Regions from separate parts of the Homo sapiens genome. Here region 2 is linked to region 1. A link means that fine-mapping ties the variant in region 1 to the expression of a gene that starts in the linked region. Tissue or cell type: whole blood. Region 1 holds a variant in brackets; the other region holds the start of a gene. All regions are shown on one strand. Distances are between the middles of the regions.

Evidence for each region. PIP is the estimated chance that this variant, and not a neighbour inherited with it, causes the effect.
Region 2: it holds the start of S1PR3, and the variant in region 1 is fine-mapped to the expression of S1PR3 in whole blood (TOPMed, PIP 0.97).

Annotation. Positions count from the first base shown.
Region 1 is chr9:88,843,686-88,851,793 of GRCh38, forward strand. No RefSeq gene overlaps it. Among named protein-coding and RNA genes, the nearest start is that of MIR4289, 100 kb to the left of the region's middle. The variant A/G (reference allele first, on the strand shown) is at 3,167.
Region 2 is chr9:88,988,273-88,996,380 of GRCh38, forward strand. It overlaps S1PR3 (sphingosine-1-phosphate receptor 3), which reads left to right and starts at 3,196. Exons shown (of 2, transcript NM_005226.4): 1 at 3,196-3,423. RefSeq lists a silencer at 2,742-3,036.

The sequences.
Region 1 (8,108 bases):
ATTTCCAGTTTGGGGCTATTACAAATAAAGTTGCTGTGAACATAGTGAATACATCTTTGTATGGATATATGCTTTCATTTATTTTGGGTAAGAACCTAGAAGTGAAATGTTTGGATCAGAAGTGTATGACTAACTTTTTTTATTTTATTTTATTTTATTATTATTACACTTTTGAAGAAGTTGCCAAACCTGTTTCCAGAGTGGTCTTGCCATTTTACATTCCCACCAGCAGTGTATGAGAGTTACAGTTGCTTCAGGTTCTGGCCAATACTTGACAAAATAAATCTGTCTAATTCAATCATTCTAATAGATGTGTGATGATACCTCATTGCAGTTTTAATTTGCATTTTCCTAATAACAACTTTTCATGTGCTTATTGATTATATATATATATATATATATAATATTCTTTGGTGAAACATCTTAATCTTCTGTCAATTTTTTTATGGTTTGTTTTCTTATTGTTGAGTTTTAAGAGTTTCTAAATATATTCTGGATAAGATTTTTCATCAGATATATGCTTTATGAATATTTTTTCCAGTTTGGGGTTTGATTTTTTTAATTCTCTTAACAATATATTTCAGAAAACAAAAGATTCTTTGATGAAGCTACATTTATAGTTTTTTTAAGGGTTGTGCTTTTTGTACAATATCTAAGAAATCTTTGCCTAACACAAGGTCACCAAAAAACCTCCTGTTTTCTTGTAGGAGTTTGTAGTTGTAGCTCTTACATTTATATTTGTAATCTATTTATAATTGATTATTTTATATGGTGCAAAGTATAGACTGAAATTATTTTTATTTTTGTATATAGATATCCAATTTGTTGAAAAGACAATCTTTTCTTTACTAAATTGTCTTTCACCTTTGTTGAAAATCAGTTGTTAATATGTGTGTGTGAGGATCTGTTTCTTGGTCTCTTTTTCTGGCTCATTGATCTATTTGTTTATGTTGATTTTTGTAGTGCTATAATCCTTAAAGTCAAGTAGCATAAGTCTTCAACTTTGTTCTTTTTTTACTTTAAATGCTGTTTGACTATTCTAAGTTCTTTATATTTTTATGTGAATTTTAAATCACCTTGTCATTATTTACAAAATCTTTCTGGGATTTTGATTGGGATTGCATTGAACCTAGATAAATTTGAGTAGTTATGCTTTATAAACTTGCCACAAACATTGAATTAGTGAACACTGAACCATTGCTCTTAGGGGAAAGACAAGGCTAGTTTCCTGAGAACATCTGGTTCCACAGAGGTGACCACAATAACCAAAATATTTTTATTAACATATCAACATAAAACCTCGTCTTATGTATGTTTCTGTTTAAAGATATCTTGTTTAATATATGTTTGTGTATATATATCTATTACCAATACATTAACATTGAACAGCCAACAGCACTATAGCTCAGCTTGAAGAAATCCTATCACACATATATTTTTTGTAAAGCACATCATGGCCTTCCTGAACTTAAGAACACTAGACAGCCCTTCAGCATGAAAGCTTGGGGCCATTTTAAATAGTGAATTGCCCCCAGAAGAGCTCAAAAATGTTTAAAACATGGCATGAAATACTGCAAAAAGGACATTTGTTTACAGTGTGAGAGCTGGAGCAAGAAAGCAGAGTGTAGGCTTGTTAAACTCAAGCTGCGAATGTGCACCACAGGAGACCCATCCCTCTCATCTCTCTGTGCCCATCTGCGTGTGACCATGAGAATGCTGCAGCTATTGATCTGAGTGTTACAAATACATTTTAGCAAGCAGGCAAATTGGAAAATATGGAATCTCTGAATTATGAATATCAATTGTATTTCTGCATTGATTTTCTAAAAATTTTGTTTTACATTTTTGTGTCTATAATCACAGGGGATATTGTTCTATAATGTTCTTATAATATCTTTGTTAGAGTTTAGTATTGAGAATTGGCCTTATAGAATGATTTAAGAAGTATATCTTCTTCAATATTCTTGAAGAACTTGTATACAATTCCCATTATTCTTTTCTTAAATATTTGGTAAGGCTGGGTGCTGTGGCTCATGCTTGTAATCCCAGAACTTTGGGAGGCTGAGGCAGGCAGATCACCTGAGGTCAGGAGTCTGAGACTAACCTGGCCAACATGGTGAAACCCCATCCCTACTAAAAATGCAAAAATTAGCCAGGTGTGGTGGTGGCTGGCACCTGTAATCCCAGCTACTCAGGAGGCTGAGGCAGGAAAATCGCTTGAACCAGGGAGGCAGAGGTTAAAGTGAGCTAAGGTAATGCCATTGCACTCCAGCCTGGGTGACAGAGTGAAACTCTGTCTAAAAAAAAAAAAAAAAAGAATATGACATGGCTGCTTCTAACAGCTTAAACTCAGATATGGGAGTAAAGGAATGATTTAAAGTTGAAACATATTTAAAAGGGAAGCAAAGCATAAAAGTTTGGAAAATTCACAGCCTAGCCCTGTGGTAGACAAAGAATCCAAGCAGGCTGCAGAGCAACCACTTACTAGAGAGATTAGCATGACTAAAAGGGAGCCAAGTGTTAATACCCAAGGCAATGGGAAAAAGGCCTCGAAGGCATTTCAGTTATCTTCAAGGCAGCTCCTCCTATCACAGGCCCAGAGGCCTAGGAGTAAAGAATGGATTCAGGGGCCAGGCCCAGGGCCCTGCTGCCCTGTGCAGTCTCAGGACACTGCTTCTCACATCCTGGCTGTCCCAGCTTCAGCCTTAGTTCAAAGGGCTCCAGATAGTACTCAAGCTGCTGCTTTGGAGACTGCAAGCTGCCATAAGCCTTAGTGGCTCCCACATGGTGTTAAGTCTATGGTAGCATGGAAAGCAAGAGTGAAGGGGGCCTGGCAGCTTCCCCTTAGATTTCAGAGGATGTATGAGAAAACCTGGGTGACCAGGCAGAAGCCTGCCACAGGGGTGGAGCCCTCACAAAAAACCTCTACTAGGGCAGCACAGAGGGAAAATGCAGGGTGAGAGCCCCCACAGAGACTCTACCAGAGTACTGCTTAGTGGAGCTTGGGGAAAGGGACTGCCACCCTCCAAACCCAAGAATGGTAGATCTAACAGAAGCTTGCATCCTGAGCCTCGAAAAGCTACATGTACTCAACTCCAACCCATGACAGCAGCCATGGTCATGTACACTGCAAAGTCACAAGGGGCAGAGCTGCCCAAGGCCTTGA[A/G]GGCCCACCTCATGTGCCAGAGTGCCCTGGATGTGGGAAATGGAGTCAAAGGAGATTATTTTGGGGCTTTAAGTAAAGAAAAGGAATCACTTTCTTTTTTCATCCATGCAAAAGAAAGTGATAGAGTGATCCATCCATCACTTTTTTTTTTTTTGACTGTCCTTTGAAGATTTGAAGCCAGGCATTGACTTTTCTCTAGCTATGAAAGTCCCAGATGGCATGTTCTTCCAATTTAAGGTAGTTTCATCTACACTGGAAATCTGTGGCCACCTTTATCAATAATCTTAGCTAGATTTTCTGGATAACTTGCTGCAGCTTCTACATCAGTACTTGCTGCTTCACCTTACATTTGTATCTTACAAAGACAGCTTTTTTCCCCCCCTAAATACCGTGAACCAGTATCTGCCAGCTTCAAATTTTCCTGCAGCTTTCTTGCCTCTCTCAGCCTTCACAGAATTGAAGAGAGTGAGGGTCTTTCTCTGGATTAAATTTTAGCTTAAGGGAATGTTGTGGTCATTTTGATCTTTTTTCCAGATCATTACAACTTTCATCAGCAATAAGGCTATTTTACTTTCTTATCATTCATGTGTTCACTGGAGTAGCACTTTTAATTTCTTCCAAGAACTTTTCCTTTGCATTCACAACTTGACTAGTGATTTGGTTCAATAAGCTTACCTTTCTGCCTATCTTGGCTTTTGACATACCTTCCTCATTCAGCTTAATCATTTCCAGCTTTTGATTTAAAGTGAGAGACCTGTGACCCTTTTTTTTTAACTTGAACACTTAGAAGCCATTAGGGTTATTAATCGGCCTAATTTCAATATTGTCATGTCTCAGGGAATAAAGAGACCCAAGGAGAGGGAAAGAGAGGGGAAAATGTTCAATGGAGGGAGCACTCAGAACACACACATTTACCAGTTAAGTTCACTGTCTTGTATGTGTATGGTTTGTGATGCCCAACAAAAATTACAGTAGTTCCATCAAAGATCACCGATCATAGATCACTATCACAGATATAGTAATAATAAGAAAGTTTGAAATGTTGCGAGAATTACCAAAATGTGACACAGAGACACAAATTGAGCAGTATATGCTTTGGGAAATATGGCGTCAATAGGCTGTTCAGAGTAGAGTTACCACAAACCTTGTAAAAAGAAGTTTGTAAAAAAAATAACGTAATATCTGAGAGGTGCAATAAAGGAAAGCACCATCAAATGAACTCTGACTGCATTTCATTGATTTTTAATATGTAGGTTTTTTGTTATTATTGTTTTCTTGATAATCTGATTTTTTAAAATTATACCATTCTTTTTTAGCCAAGAAAGTTATCTTTAAATATTTGGCTTATTAGGTTTTCCTGAAATGTTTGGCATTATTGGTTTTTATATTTATGTATTTATTGAGACAGAATCTACTTCTGTGGCCCAGGCTGGAGTGCAGTGGCACAATCTCGGTTTACTGCAGCCTCTGCCTCCCAGGTTCCTCCTGCCTCAGCTTCCCAAGTAGCTGGGACTACAGGCATGCACTACCATGCCCTGCTAATTTTTGTATTTTTAGTACAGACAGGGTTTCACCATGTTGACCAGGCTGCTCTCAAACTCCTGACCTCAAGTGATCCACCTGCCTCAGCCTCCCAAAGTGCTGGAATTACAGGCATGAGCCACTGTGCCCAGCATTTTTTATTTATTTTTTTATTGAGGTAAAATTTACAGACAAAATTAAGCATTTTAAGGTAGACAATTTTGTGGCATTTAGTACATTCACAATGTTTTGCAAACACTAACTCTATCTAGTTCCAAAATATTTTCATTACGCCAAATAAAATCCTATATCCATGAGGCACCTACTCCCCATTACTCACTCTCTCCAGCCCTTGACAATCACCATTCTGCTTTCTGTACCTCTGAATTTACCTATTCTGAACATTTCATGTAATTGAGTCATATGACCAACGTGTGAACTTTTGTGTCTGGCTTCTTTCACCTGGCATAATCTTGTATAATATCTGGGCAATGAAATAATCTGTACAACAAAACTTCATGGCACAAGTCTATGTAACAAACCTGCATTTGTACCCCTGAACTTAAAATATAAGTTAAAACAAAGAAAAAAAAGAGACTTACAGAAAGAAGAAGAAAAAAGACTGAATTATGGATGGGTGGATGGATGGATGGATGGATGGATAGGTCAATGAAAAGATGGAAGGCTCATTAAAATTCTGTTTATCACTAAACATACCTGTTCAGAAAAAGTGTAGCGATGTTTACATTATGTGATATGCCACAAGATGAATTCTGTTCATATCCATTATTAATCCATTCATCCACTGATGGATGTTTGGGTTGTTTCTATCTTTTGACTATTGTGAATAGTGCTGCTCTGAATGTTCATATAGAGAGTAATCTGCATACCTGTTTTCAATTCTCTTAGGTATGTCCCTAAGTGGAATTCCTGGGTCATCTGGTAAGCCTATGTTTGACTTACCATGAAATATTTATTCACAGTGACTGAATCATTTTACATTTCCCCCAGTAATACTTGAGAGTTCCAACTTGTAGATATCCTTGCCAACACTTATTTTTCATTTTATTGATTGTAGACATCCTAGTGGGTTTGAAGTGGTATTTAATTTTGGTTTTGATTTGGATTTTCCTAATGACAAATGTTGTTGGTCACCTTTTCATGTGCTTAATGTCCATTTTTAGATATTCTTTGGAGAAATACTAAGTCCTTTGCCCATTTTAAAATGGTCTTTTCAGTTGAATTTCAATTCTTTATATACTCTAGATATTAATCCCTTATCAGAGATGTGATTTGAAAATATTTCTCCTATTCTGTAGATTGTCTTTTCATTTTCTTGATAATATTCTTGGATGTTAAAAATTTTTGTCTTTATATGTCCAGTTTGTCTACTTTTTCTTTTGTTCCATGTGCTTTCAGTATCATATCTAAGAACCCACTGTCAAATCCAAAGTCATGAAGGTTTGTCCCTATATTTTCTTCTGAGAGTTTTGTAGATTTAGCTCTTACCTTTAGATTGATGGTTCATTCTGAGTTCAGTTTTGTTTAGTGATTCAACTTCATTCTTTTGCATGTGAATATCTGGTTGTTCCAGCACCATTTGTTGAAGGGATGATTCTTTCCCTAAATGAATTATCTTGGTACCCTCTTTTAAAAATTATTAATTTCTTGTTTATTTTATTTTATTTTATTTTATTTTATTTTATTTTATTTTATTTTATTTTATTTTATTTTATTTTTGATGAAGGCTCGCTCTGTCGCCCAGGCTGGAGTGCAGTGACCCAATCTCGGCTCACTGCTGGGACTACAGATGCCTGCCACCACACCAGGCTTATTTTTTGTACGTTTTTAGTAGAGACGGGGTTTCACTGTGTTAGCCAGGATGGTCTCGATCTCCTGACCTTGTGATCTGCCCGCCTCGGCCTCCCAAAGTGCTAGGATTACAGGCATGAGCCACCGTGCCCGGCCAATTTCTTGTTTATTTTCATGTTAGATATTGAATATGGTCTGCACAAGTTTCTTTTCTGTGATTAAAAAATTTTTGTTGTCTCTTTGTGGTCAATTTTTATAAATGTTGAAGATGCTTAAAAGTAGGTGTGTATGTCTGTTTGTAAGATACAGAAATTTGAGTACATATAGTACACAACCTTATATCACATATAATAAAAATATTAGTAGTACTGCTTAAATTCTCTATATTTCTTATTTTGCTAAGTAGTCTTAATTAGTGATGGATTGAAAAAGATGAGTTAATATTTACTATTATACTTTTTGGTGTGTATTTATTTTTGTATTTTCAGTAGCTTTTTCTGTGTATTTTTGTTGATATATTATCTGAGCATAAAGGTTCCTGACATTTTTACATTTATTGTGAAATACTTTCTGCATCATTAAACAATGAGTTCATTTAGGATTTTTCATGTCTTTTGCCTAAAATTAAAATTTGCCTGCTTATTAATACAACAATCCCCACTTAAGTTTGTTGGCATTTGTTTGCTTTATCTTTGTCTAACCTTTAATTTATAACTTTGTAATTTTTTAACATATCTTTTACTTTTGGCATGTAATTAGCTTTTGGATCAAACAAAGAAATTATTTTTTAACAGATTTTATATTTCTATTTATATTTGTATTTCTAACAGATATGCTTGATACATGTGCTTCCTTTTCTCTCTCTCTGTGTGTGTGTATATGTGTATGTGTGTGTGTTTAGTGAAGTGGTGTGTATGTGTATGTGTGTGGTTTAGTGAAGTGGTATGTATAGAAAGTGGTGCACTTACTTTTCTCCTGGTAATTTGAAAGTATTATTGTCTGTTTGTTACAGACTGAATGTTTGTGCCCCTCTAAAATTCATATGCTGTAGCCCTAACACCCAAGATGATGATATTTGGGAGGCGAGCCTTCGTGTGGTAATTATTTTTAGATGAGTTCATGAAAGTGGGACCCTCACGATGGAATTAGCATCCTTATAAAAAGAGGAAAAGAGACCAGAGATCTCTCTCCACACCACCACCATAAGAGAACACAGCAAGAAGGTGGCTGTCTGCAAGCCAGGAAGAGAGCCCTCACCAGGGAACCAAATCAGTAGCACCTTAATCTTGGACTTCCAGCCTCCAGAGCTGTCAGAAATAAATTGCTTTTGTTTAAGCTATCCAATGCTTGACATTTTTTTTATGGCAACCAAATTTACTAAGACACTCTTCTAGTGTTATCTTTGTAAATTTGGAGATATATGTCATCTTTATTAATTCATAACTTTTAGTATCAACTATTCTTACATCATGAAAGATTAGATATTTAGTCTTGATAGATCAAATATTCAACAATATGAATTCTAGTTTTGGAATTCTCCATTAAAGGTGCAATTGATTGGATTTGTCATCATGTTTTTTTAAGGATGAATAGGTACTATATGCACTAA
Region 2 (8,108 bases), 140 kb after region 1:
ATACAGATATAACTCATAGTATCTTTCAATTTTATTCCCATAAGCCTAGATTTGATTTAAAGTCTAAGCGCAAAGGTAGAGAAATTTTTTAGTTGTTTAGTACCTGCCATTTTATTTTTCTCCAACTTTTTATTATGGAAAAAGTTCAAAGATACAAAGAAGGAGAACAGATTGTACAACCCCTTCCCTAAATCCACCACGTAGAACCAATAATCACCAACCTTTTGTCATATCAGCTTATGTGCACGTACTGTGCTGAACAATTTAAAATAAGTTTTAGACATGAAGACATTTTACCCTTTAATACTTCAGCAGCACCTCCTAAAATTAAAGCCATTCTCCTAAACAAACATTATGCCATTATCACACCTAAAAACATTAACAATAATTCTATACTATCAGTCAATATCCCCTCCAATTTGTAATTTCCTCCAAAATGTTTTTGTGTGCGTGTGTGTGTGCTGATTTGTCCAGCTGGGAGTCAATCCGGATTTGTACTTATTGTTATACTTCTTCTTTTCAGCTGTTCTTATACCAGAAGAATCCTTCACCCCTTTTTCTTGACATTGATTTTTTTTGGAAGAGCTCAGGACTGCAGAATGCCCACACTCTGGTAGTCCAGTTTTTCCCATGGTGTCATTTAACTCATGGCTCAAACTCTTCCATTTCCTGTAAACTTGCAGTAAAGTCTAGAGGCTTTGCAATTGATTCAATTGAAGCATCTTTGGCAAGCACACAGCAACAATGATGTTGTGTGTTTCTTTTGCATCACATAATGCCAGGTTGAGCCAGTATTAGTGACACTGAGTTTGATCTTCCTGTAAGGTACAGCCAGATGTCTCCATAAAAAAATGGAAAATGGAAAACCTTTTTCTTTTTTTTTTCCAATTAGCACCCGTTCGCCTGCACACTTTCACCTAAGGGTTTGACACCCACTAGTGCACACTGCCTGATTTAATTATTTCATTAAGGGTTACAGAATGGGGATTTCCTCATTCTCGCATTTCTACGTTTATGAGCTGGCATTCTTCTGTTAAACTGCTTTCACTTGTGAAACAGGATGCAGAGGAGGAGACTTATTCAACAGAATTGTAGGGAGGGCTGTTTCTCTCAAAAGGAGTGGTGAGAGAAGATGGTCTCTACCGGGGCATGGAGGGCTCCTTGTCAGAGTCTAGTGTCTGAGCTTTAAGGCCCAGGAAGAGGGCAGCAGATGGGGGTGGGGCAGTGGGTGAGTGAGAGGCCCGTGTGTGGGGAGACCCACTGAGGACAGGGATCTTTAGGCAAACGGAGCCTCACTGAAAGAGGAATTTCAGTGATGCCATGGGTCAGATCCTGGGTCTCTCTTAGGGAAACCTGCCATAAAGCATGAGAGCCACATTACTCCTCAGGGCTTCTGGGCTCCGATTCCGCAGACTAGTTTTGGAGGCATCACCACGCCTCAAGGTTGCTCTGTTATATCAGGGTAACTGACTTTCTCTAGGAACGGAGACTTGGGTGCCCCTTAAAACAACCCTCAGCCAGTATCCTAGCAGTAAATTTTTCATCACGGGAAGCAACTAATTGAACAGAGGTGTGATGAACCTACTGACCACTTTGGTAATATAGACACAGTGGCCACAGTATGCTGTATTGTTATCCTGGTTGTGACCAATGCCAAAGGAGCATGTTTCCTTCTTTTCTTGACTTGATGCTGTAGGAGTCCAACAAAGGGAAGCACATTCAGGCCCACATGAAACTTGGGACAGAAGTGGCTTCTCAGAGCCGTGCACCAGGCACTTTGAACAAGTTGGAAGGCTACAGTGCCGGAAGACTCCACAGTAGCACAGGCGAAGTGGCTTAGGCGAAAACGCTGGGAAGTACCCCAGCTCCCGGGGGCCAGAGCCTCTAGGGCTGGCAGCCTCAGCAGGCAGAGTCACTTGCCTCCTTCAGCTCAATTGCTGAGGGCTTGCGTTTCTCTGCAGGGAACAGGAGTGCCGCCGACTTCCACTCTTGGTGCCCTTCACCGCTCAAACTGCACCCCAAATAAGCGTATGCACCCTGCTCCAAGAGAAGGATGCGCTGGGCTGATCCTCTGGAGGCAAGAGGGCAAAAGACAGAAAGTAACGAGCGGCCTTTGCACAAACTCAACTCTCTGCAGCGGCCCCTGCGGCCCAATCCTGCCGGCCCAGGAATGCACGGTCGGATAACAGGCCTCTCCTTGCTTTTTCGTCTTCTTCCTCCCGCTTCTCTCCTCTCTCCTTTTCCTCCTCCTCCTTTTTCTTTAATTTTCTCCTTTCTCCCCAAGCTTCTACAGTTGTTTCTGTGTTCGCTCAATCATGGCCTTTGGCATTGATTGAAAATTTGGCAGTTCCTTCTCTCGGAATTCTGTTTGAAGCCTTCATATGGATTTATTATTATTATTATTATTTTTGCCACACAAAAGGGGCAAATCCGCGTGAGGAAGGGGGTCGCATGGGGGTCGGCTGAGATCTGCTGGCTGCCGGTCTAGGAGGGGCGCTGCTCTGTGCCGGAGTGGGCTCTGGTGCACCAGCAGAGGCTGGGGGAGAGTGCTGCCCCCGCCTGGAGCCCAAGTCTCTGCGTGCCTGGGGGTAGAGCGCGGAGAGGGACCAGGCAGGCGCCGGAGGGGACCCGCGCGGAAAAGGAAGAAGCCCAAACAAAAACGCTGTCCGGCGCCAGGCGCCCACCTGCAAGCCCAAGCCGGTGCTCGGCCAGTTACAAAAGAAATGGTCAGGATCTGGACAACGATAATGATAGTATTAATCCTCCTATTAAGAATCGGCCCAAACAAACCCTCGCTGTCAGGGCGACAGGCGCCCGCCCAAGCCCAGACCTCGGACCTGGTTCCAAGCCTGTTCCCGCTGGGTCTCTGGGCGCCCGGTTTCTGCACCTGGAGCTCGCCCGATGAGGACAAGGTCTGGAGGCCGGCCTGGGAACAGGGGCCGAAGGGCGAGCCGGACCCTAGGGGATTGGTAGGGTCGGGGAGAAGGGGTCCAGGCTAGGGGCGGGCGGGGCGCACGGAGACCAGGCGGCTTGAGCGGGAGGTGGGGAGCTGGAGGAGTGCCGGGTTCGCGGGCGGGGGACGGGGAGAGGGGGGCGGGGAGAGGGGCGGGAGTCGGGGGCGGCGAGGGGAGGGGCGGAGCGCGGGTCCCGCCCCGGCGGGCCGCTGGAAAAGTTTAGTCTCTGACTCGCTCGGGCAGAGGCCGAGGAAGCCGGTTCCGGGGACGGGCAACAGGGACTCAGGGACCAGAAGGCGGCTGCAGGACGCGACCGAGCAGGACCCCAGGCCCGGGAACGACGTCGCGAGCGCTGAGACTGCCGGGCCTCCCAGCCCATCTGGCATTCGAGCGCAGGACCGGGCGCCCCGGCACCGCCGCGCGCCACCCGCTAGGATGCCGGTGGCCCCAGCGCCCTCAGCCGACGGAGGTGAGAGGCGGGCCCGGGCGGGGCGCGGAACCAGGGTGGGGGGCTGGGGGCCGAAGGACCCACCTTTCCAACAAAATCCCCACCGATCCCGGGCGCGACGGGGACTTGGGCGCGCCACGGCGGCCGGAGCGCTCCACATCAGCACCCCTCCCCCAGAGCCGCTGCAGGAACAGGGAGGAGGCCTTTTCCACCGCACCCGGAGCGTTTACAACGGGCTGGAGCTGAATACCTGGATGAAAGTGGAGAGGCTGTTCGTGGAGAAGTTCCATCAGTCGTTTTCCTTGGACAATTAACAAGTTAGGCTTCCACAGTGCCAGGGCCTGGGGATGCTGGACGTGGGAGAGGGTTGTGGTCGTTAGCCTGGGAAAATCATTCTTTTAAACAATATTCGCCGGAAAATTAGTTTTTTCCTAACATTTCTCAAACAAGGCAATTAGGGCCGTCAGAATCGGTGCTGGAAGACGAAGTCCCCACAGTGCAATAATGAGGTTCCCACGGAAAATCAGTACGTTGTGTTCGTAACTGAGATAACAGCTAGAGAAGGGGCTTTGGGCTTTTTGAGTCTCCCAATAGTCAGTCTCTCTCTCTCTCTCTCTCTCTCTCTTCCTCTGACTTTCTGGCTTTGGACACTCCCAATGGTATATTTCTTTGTGGTGTTTTTATATTTGGATATAAGAGAGGAACTTCTTGTTGGATTTTTAAGGGAACACACTTCGTTTTGACCCTTCCAATAAGGAAAGGGGAGCTACAGGAACAGAGAGCTCTTTAGAAGGTTACTTTTAAATGGAGGCCCCCCCATTCATGGTACCCACTCCCACTTGGACCTCTGAGACCTCCAGAATTAGGCATCATTCTAAAATCTGGACATTAGAAGTCACAGACTTTGTATATAACCACATATTCATAATTTATCTTTTCAATGTTTTTTATTCATAGATGAAAATCTTGCAGGCATAGTTAAGAAAAATATAATTCCTAGAAAGTACAAGGGAAGGATTATGCTCTGCAGATACATGACTAACAAGGATAGCTGGCCATGCCCAGGGCTGGTGTTGGTTGAGGAGGTGGTGATGGTGCGGGGCATGTGTGTGTGTGTGTGTGTGTGCGCTTGAGGAGTTGTGGAAGTGTTCATATCTGTAAAGTATTATTTCATGGATGCAGACCTTAATGCTAGGTTGAATAACTTTGTTGCCATAGAAGAAGAACCGCACGTCAGGCTTTTTTCATTAGCAAACCAGTAAGCACTCACTTTGGGCCTCTGAAATCACTTCCATCACCTAACACCAGAGATACAAACTGAAGCTAGCCCTTAAGAGCCTCCCCCTAAGATTTAGAGAGAATGATTTCTCAACCAGTTTTCATCTTTGAAAGTGCCATTTCTCCCTTTATCATTGTGATTTTTATTCAAATGCATGAGTCTCTGATTTTCTACCATATACAAAGGGTAGAGACTACAGTTTCCTATAGAAGAAACTTCACATAGTGGCCGAAGGATCTTATTTCTCAAAATTCAGGAACTGGTTTCCTCTTTCTGGAAATTATGACATTAACTTGATTTCATGGTATCTCTTTCATCTTCCTCAATGCCTGTGCTGTATGTATATTTTTATTATATACTGTAGGTATATTTTTATTACCAAAAAAAGGAGAATTTGAGCATGCCACAATCTTGAAAAATCTGAGGTTGCCCTGCTGTAGAACCCTTTAACTGCCAGGACTTTGTACTGTTTCCCAAGTGTTACCAGAGCCAGGCCGCCAGCCTTATGCAGTCTGTTTACCTTAGCTGGAACCAGGGTGCTGTGCTGTGGGTTCTATGAAACTTTCTGTTTCTTCATATTTGGCTTTGTAATTCCTTTCTTATCAGTTTTGGAGGCATTTCCTATTATTCCTCTGCCATATGTTTTCTGCCAAATTAATTGCCTTAAGATTTTCCTTAAGCTTTTGGAAATGTATAATGTTTGAGAAAAAAGAAAAAGAATAGACTGAGTGGAATCGTATCTAGTTTCAGTTAATAACATGTTTCAGTTGATGTTACTGTTATAGCTACTGGGCATAAAGTCTCCTTCCCTTTTTTGAATCCTATTTTTGAGGCATTGAAGCTGTGTCTGTAAGAGACAATAGGCCAGTTGGGTTAAATCAGTGACGAGATTGTCCAGTGCAGATTGGTGCCCAGTGAGTGGATCTTCACTGCTCACAGGCCGGACTGGGGTCAGCTCACACAGCGAGGTGACGGTCCGCTCCTCAAGCAGTGGATGGTGCTCTTCGGCCTTGCAGATGCCGCTCCATTTTCCTGGCTTCAAAATTTTCCAGATATTTCAGTGCCCCCAGAATGACATGCTAACATTCTGCTGGCATGGGAGCATGAGGCAGTTTGTCTCTAAAACATGCCAGAGAATCTCTTGTCACTACCTAGGCAAAGAACCAGTGGCAAGGTGGCAGCCTCCCAAAGAGCTCATCCCTAATGTGACATCCTGGAATCAGATGGCACGGACACCGGCCCAGCCCCTTCCCAGCTCTGTGACTAAGGACAAGTGACACCCCCCCTCCCCCAGCCTCGGTCTCCTCCTGTGTACATTCAGAAGGCAGATGCTGCCATGAGGCCATGTGTGCTATGTCCATGGTGCAAGGTGGCACGCATGCCGAGTCACCAGGTGAGACTGCCGCTTTGGGAAGGGATAGGAAGGATCTCCGGTAGCCTTCGTGGGCAGGATGCCTCTTATTTGAATGTGCCTTTAGCCACCTCACAGAGCCTATTTCCACATCCCTGTGGATTCATCCCTGTGGAAATCTTGAGAATCATTTATCCTATGCTGTCATGAAGCAGCAGCAGAATGGAGAAGGTTTAAAAAGACTCATGGACAGGCAAAGCGGTCAAACACCTCCTGGCTCAGACGCACTTGCCTTCCCACACACAAGTCTGGAAGCTCAGGATGGTGTTCACGGAGGCAGATGCTCGGGGCCGGGGCCTGAGTTTCCTGGGGCACAGCCTCCATATCTGGGGTTCCCTGGACTATGCCCAGATAGCTCATAATGTCCCAGCCTTATTTGTGATGGAGAAGGACTTGGGGAAAAGCCACCGGGAAGCAGTAAGTCTAACCAGGGAAGTGCACTGACTTGCATGCTTTGAAGAAGAGAAGGGAGAAAAGATACAAAACCCTCACCTGGTTTGTCTGTAACAGTTGTTATTTCTCAGGGGAGCTGCATTAATGGGCCAAGCCTGTGCAGCTGGGTGTGTGAAGCATGCATTTTGCAATGGACTGTCTCCAAAAGCAGAGCGAGGTCACCCAAGAAATCTAGAGCAAGGGAAAATACTCATTAGCAAAGGAATTTTGCTGGAGCCTTGTAACGGCCGACTCATTATTTCCTTTCCAAGTTATTTTAAATGAAATTTTAAAAAACATCTTGCTTTCCAAGAAATTTTGCTTGTTGGCATATGTTTGGTGTTTTGATTCAGTTTGGAGGATGAACTAGTTAATTTCCCTGGGAGTACATGCCTATTAAAAATATAGCATCCTGCATCTGACCAAGATGCTATCTTACTATCTTATTGTGCCTATCTTTTATGCGGAGAGAGAAAGGGGGGTGTTGGGAAGGAGACCAGACTGTGGAAACATTTTCTTTATTTTTTCTCTTTTTCTTCCTTTTATAGTTTGTTTATTTTTCAACTTGACATGGGTAGAGAAAGCGAATCGCTAGTATAGAAAGCACATCTGGAATCCATCCGGCCTCCTCTCTCTGGCTCACCCTCCTCCCAGCAATGTTTCTCCTTGGAAGTTGGGGGAAGGTAGGCACCTCTGACCTTGGCAGGGTCTAACTTGGGGTCATCCACTGCATACTCATCTTCCAGAAGGCGTCTTATTCCTCCTCGACAAAAAAAAAATGTGTTGGTATTAAAATGCTTTGAGGTAGGCTGGATGAACCCAGCTTAGTGAGGATGACATGAAAACCCTTAGCTAATGGGGTCTTTATTGAGTAGAACTCAGGTAAGTTCAGATGTAAGCAGTGTCTCTCAGTAAACATGAAAAGACTGAAGATGCAGACAATCAAATACTTAAGTCTCTTGAAGAGCTGGGTGGTGGGCGGGGGTCTTCCCAGGTGGTCAGGGAGATGTGTTAGTGTAGCACTTGGAAGAGAGTGGAACGACCAGGCAAGGATGTGCCGTGGAGGTGGGCAGTGGGAGCAGCCCAGTGTCAGCATCTGTATTGGTTAGAAGACCACCGCTAATGAGGAGGAGCGTCTCTACCCTGCAGCTGTCTGTACTCCTGTGTCTTCCGTAATGTGCCAAGCTCTCTGAATATATGCAAAACTAGTCTGCAAAAAGCCATATGTCTCAGCATCTGGCTTTATTTCTAAGTGTTCAGGTGGAATTTAAGCCGCGATCAAATTTACAATGTCACTGCCAGCTCTGGACACTTACTTTTGGAATAAAGCAAAGAGTGAACACTAATACTGCATCAGTCTTGCCCTCTGTTAGGGGCCGCCCCTTCTCCCCACACCAGTTTTGCAAGATGGGCTGGCTGGGGTCTGAGAAACCCAGTGCCTCCGAGTCATGGTTAAAGCCCATCTCAGACACCAACACACCGCTCACAAATCAACATCGACCTGCGAAAACATGGACATGTGTTCGCCAAGAGAACATCCTCAATCAATCCCAGCAGTGCTACTTGATGATAATCAACACATGG